Linked DNA regions of Homo sapiens: region 1 is linked to region 2. Evidence: fine-mapped expression QTL. Tissue or cell type: spinal cord. Region 2 holds a variant in brackets; the other region holds the start of a gene. All regions are shown on one strand. Distances are from middle to middle.

What was found. PIP is the estimated chance that this variant, and not a neighbour inherited with it, causes the effect.
Region 1: CNKSR1 starts here. The variant in region 2 is fine-mapped to the expression of CNKSR1 in spinal cord (GTEx, PIP 0.94).

What each region holds. Positions count from the first base shown.
Region 1 is chr1:26,176,134-26,178,818 of GRCh38, reverse strand. CNKSR1 (connector enhancer of kinase suppressor of Ras 1) reads right to left here and starts at 1,328. Exons shown (of 21, transcript NM_006314.3): 1 at 1,220-1,328. The coding sequence starts at 1,271.
Region 2 is chr1:26,120,291-26,122,975 of GRCh38, reverse strand. It overlaps PDIK1L (PDLIM1 interacting kinase 1 like), which reads right to left. Exons shown (of 3, transcript NM_152835.5): 3 at 1-1,139. The coding sequence ends at 399. Among named protein-coding and RNA genes, the nearest start is that of PDIK1L, 9.8 kb to the right of the region's middle. The variant T/C (reference allele first, on the strand shown) is at 1,491.

The sequences.
Region 1 (2,685 bases), 56 kb before region 2:
CTGGTGCCCTCCCAATAGACCCAGGCATTGAGCTACAAATGAACTATGTCATGATTGTCTCACTTTGTCGACTTCATAAGGTCAGAGTTGCCTTTCCCATTTGATGGACAGAAAAACTAAGACCTATGGTCACAGAGCTGGCAAGCGGTGGGGGTGGGCCTGGAATCCAGCCTGGGAGTCTGAACCCAGCCCTGAATTCCTGCCCTTACCCGGGCTGGTCCTCCTGAGCCTGTCTCTAGTGCGCTCCAGCTCCCCACTCTGGGAGGGGTGTCCTGACTGCCTGCTCCTGGTCGCACTGTGTGTCAGGAGGCCCTTCCTTCTCTGAGTCTGCCTGTGGGGTGTGTTGCTTCCCATCTGTGTGGGCTCGCTGAGCCTGGACAGCACCTTGCCCCTTGGATAGGAGCCCCAGGGTGGGGCTGTGTCAACCTCTTCAGTCTGGCCTAGGGCTTCTGCTTCTGTCACTAGGAGCTCAGGGTGTGGAGCGGGGAAAATGACACCAGAGACTGAGCAAATCATTTCCTGGCTCTGTGTGTCAGTTTCTGACTCTAAGAAACGGATTTAACAACAGCCCACTGGCCCTGGGGCCAGGGAAGATGAAGGAGATACAGTGGGTGTGGGCCTGTCAGGCCTCCCTCCTGTTTTCATGACACCGCCTCCCCATTATCACCCTAGAGGCCTCTTGGGCTACTGCCATGATGAGGGGCCCCCTTCTGGGTCCTTGGGCCCCCCAGGGTCATCTCATCTGTCTCTCTGCCCAGCACGGTTCCTGGAACATGTTAGGTGCTCTGTAAATATTTGTTGACTGACTGACCGACTGATAGAGCCCGCAGTTTATTATTTTTTTTTTTCTTTTGAGCTGAATCTCGCTCTGTCGTCCAGACTGGAGTGCAGCGGTGCAATCTCGGCTCACTGTAACCTCTGCCTCCTGGGTTCAAGCGATTCTCCTGCCTCAGCCTCCCAAGTAGCTGGGATTACAGGCACCTGCCACCACCCCCAGATAATTTTTGTATTTTTAGTAGAGACGGGGTTTCACCATGCTGGTCTTGAACTCCCGACCTCAGGTGACCCACCCACCTTGGCTTCCCAAAGTGCTGGGATTACAGGTGTGAACCAGCGCACCCAGTCCGCAGATTTTTTTTCCTTTTCCTCTCCTCCCGCTTCCCGGTGGGACACCACACCTAGTCCCCTTCAAGCCCAACTCTACCCCAGCCCCACCCACCTCTCAGCCAAGTTGCCACCTTTCCGGGGGTCCAGGTCTCTACCGGTTCCATGGCCCAGCTCTGCCAGCTCGAATCAGCTCCTGTTTTGCCCTGCTGTCGCCGGAATTTCCGCTCCCAGAGCCCAGGCCTAAGGAGGGGCCGGGCTGGGTCCTGGGCGGAGCCTACTGCATACCTGGGCTCACACAGACGGCAAGATGAGGCACTGCGACAGCCATTGGCCCACGCCCGTCCGCCTCCTGCCCGGCCCTTCAGACATCCTAGGGCTCTGGCATCTCGCGCCTGCTAGGGGGCAGTGCCACTGGCCTCATATCGCGGGGTGGGACCCTGACCCTTGGGCTCCTCAAGAAAAAGCCACAAGAGGAGCGCTGAAATCAGTAGCAAAGCACAGAGGCTAGGGGGCCAGGTCCCTGGGTGCCTAGGCCAGCTCTTGTTAGCTGTGTGACCTGGGGCTGACCCTAACTTCTGCGCCTCAGTTTCTGGGTCTGTAAAAGAGATATAATAGACCGTACTTCAAAGGGCAGCTGTGCACAGTATCTGAATGGCTTGAAAACATTTAGAACTGGGGTGTTTAGCCTCCCTTGGATTTTGCAGTATGGACTCTGGCATCTGGTGAGGCCTGTGAATGCTTTCTCAGAATAGCTGCTTATAAAGGCATAAAACAGGCCGGGCGCGGTGGCTCACGCCTGTAATCCCAGCACTTTGGGAGGCCGAGGTGGGCGGATCACTTGAGATCAGGAGTTCAAGACCAGCCTGGCCAATATGGTGAAACACCATCTCTACTAAAAATACAAAAAATTAGCTGGGCGTAGTGGGTGCTTGTAATCCCAGCTACTCAGGAGGCTGAGGCAGGAGAATCCCTTGAACCCAGGAGGGGGAGGTTCCAGTGAGCCAAGATCGTGCCACTGCACTCCAGCCTGGGCAACAGAGCAAAACTCTGTATTATAAATAAATAAATAAATGCACAAAACAAAATGCTTAGGATTACAATGAGAACAATTATCAAAACTATATTTAAAAACAAATTTGGCCGGGCATGGTGGTTCACGCCTGTAATTCCAGCACTTTGGAAGGCCAAGGCGGGTGGATCATGAGGTTAAGAGATGGAAACCAGCCTGCCCAACATGGTGAAACCCCGTCTCTACTAAAAATACAAAAATTAGCTGGGTGTGGTGGTGCACGCCTGTAGTCACAGCTACTCAGGAGGCTGAGGCAGGAGAATCGCTTGAACCTGGGAGGCGGAGGTTGCAGTGAGCTGAGATCACGCCTCTGCACTCCAGCCTGGCAACAAAGCAAGACTCCGTCTCAAAAAAAAAACCCACAAAAAACAAAAAAAAAATTTGGAGCTGGGGAGTGCTGGCACACGACTGTAGTCCCAGCTACTCGAGAGGTTGAGAGGTTGAGCGGGGGAGTATCACTCAAGCCCAGGAGTCAAAGCCACCCTGGGCAACATAGCAGGAGCCCATCT
Region 2 (2,685 bases):
TTCCTTTACAAAGTTTCAAAGGTTGCATTACCAGCATGCAAACCTCTTTTCCCATGGAAATTCCTAATACTGACGAGGAATGTCTAAAATACTTAAAGACATATTTCCAGAAAACTGGACTCTCTTCTCTTGTTAGCTCTTAAAGAATTTTCCTGCCAAACTTCTATCAATAATCATTTTTTAAAAATTTACACCCACATTGGTAATACACATTTGAAACATACTAATAAAACGGCCAACTTGGATTTAAGAAAAATGAGGAAAAAAAAAATCCCACAAAAAATCTAAACCCTTAGAGGGTAGAGTCTAGCTTTTTATATTCTTTTTCAGCCACATAATGTTGCATCACTGTTAAACAGAAGCAGCATATCATCCATGGTATTTGCAAATAATATGTGTCACGTTTCCCAGCTGCTATCTTTAAATGCAATTTGTACTAATCTGAGTTCTAGTTCAAAAGCATCTGGACGATCCTGAGGGTTTGCAGCCAGCATTTCCTTAATCAGTTGTTTCATTCGCCCATTCATAGATTTTTTCTTCACAGGAATGAGAAGTTCCATTTTGGGATTTTCCAGAAGTGCCTCCCCAACAGGCACAATCTCAGTTCCTTGTTTTACATAACTCCCCAAGAGTTCCTTCTTTGTCTCTGTGTCTATGAATGTGATCCTTTCCAGCATTGCCCAGATGATAATCCCCAGAGCAAAGATGTCAGCTTTTGCTGTGTAATGTCCTTCCCAAACTTCAGGAGCCATGTAAAAATCTGTTCCACATGCTGTGGAAAGGAAACACTTGTTTACACTGACAGGTTCTTCTGGGTTCTGCCCAGAGGCTGAACAAACTTTACTTAGACCAAAATCAGCCACTTTGAGGGTAGGTTCCAAGTCACTGGTATCCAACCTGGTTTGAGAAATCAGGATGTTATCAGGCTTAAGATCTCGGTGGATGATCTGGTTTTTATGCAAGAAAGCCAGGGCACTGCTCAGCTGAAGCATGAAGCTGGTGTTAGTTTTACGATTGGGTTTCCTGGACAACAGATACTCATTCATATCTCCTCCGTCACAAAAATCCATCACAAACCACAAATAATAGGCGCTTCTGGGATCAAAGGCAATTTCTCCTTTTAATGAAGTTTCTACAAGCTACAAGAAGGAAGAAAAAAGATTACAATCATTTGCATAGGTTATACAATTCAGTTATAGGAAAATAATAATTGAAAGGTTAAGTCAGTCTCCACCTTTAAGTGGAAACTCTATAAATATTTTATTTAATCAGTGCTTTCAAATATGCATTTTAAACTTTAAAAAATGCTTCAACTTGTCATTTTGTCCCTGATAAATATACACCAAAGCTCTAAACCAAGGGGTAAAAATTTTAAAATAGCTTTATTTTGAAAAGCGTCCAAGTGGCCACACATTTTCTCCATGTGTCAGTGGAGCTGAACTCTACCCAGCTAGCTCATAGCTTCATGAAAAGACCAAAGTTTCAGCAGA[T/C]AGACCTAGGAAATTGCCAGCTGGGGTATAAACCTCAATTAGGAAACGCTATTCAATGAAATCGCCTGAAATATACTTCTTACTGATTGCACAGACACTATCAACATAACCTGTGAAATCGAGAGAAAAATGATCAAGGAACAACCAGCTGTTGCAGAAATAGCTGTTCCTGTAGTCACTAATAAAATAAAGACTGACGTCGTTACTTCATAAACTTCTATAGGCAGAATGCAAATACGTTGGCTCTTTCACTGGATGACTTTTAAAAACCAATTTATAAAAATCAAATAGGCATTTTTTAAATTTTTAAATATTTATTTTGTTTTCAAATATGCATTTTGATATTAAAAAATCAACTCTGAATTTGTATATTTCTTCTTTCATACAAGCTGAAAACCTAGACTAAATCACAGTTTTATTTGTTATTATTATCTAGTTATAACGCTCCTTTACTTGAAATTCAATAGAATTACTTCACTGGACATGAACTATCACTCTAAAATACAGTACATAGTCTTTTTTTTTTTTTTTTTTTGAGACGGAGTCTTGCTCTGTCACCAGGCTGGAGTGCAATGGCGCAATCTCGGCTCACTGCAACCTCCGCCTCCCAGGTTCAAGAGATTCTCCTGCCTCGGCCTCCCAAGTAGCCGAGACTACAGGCGCGTGCCACCACGCCCAGCTAACTTTTGTATTTTTAGTAGAGACGGGGTTTCACCATGTTGGCCAGGATGGTCTCAATCTCTTTACCTCGTGATCCGCCCACCTCGGCCTCCCAAAGTGCTGGGACTATAGGCATGAGCCATGGCACCCGGCCCCGTATATTGTCTTTTAAAAGCATTTGTTGTATGGTGCCCTTTTCAGACCCATGAGTTGAACAGAAAAGGCCGAAGAGTTGCTGAAGAGTGAATGAATTGCTAATTTCACATTTAAATCTACTGGTACTTTCTCTACCATCTGGGAAAGCACAAGCAAAGAACATCTCTTCACGCCATCTCTCCACATGGCAGACAATAGTAATTGCGATGATCTGCAGATATCTCTTTTGCATGAGTTTTCCTTGTTGCACATGTTTGCCAGTGAGACAGAAAAATGAAAGAAAGGTACAGATCACATAATTATTTACCAGGTGCACTGATACTAAACATGCTTTTCTTCTTCTGTCTTTACTCTCAAAAGCAAACTTCCTAAATAGCTT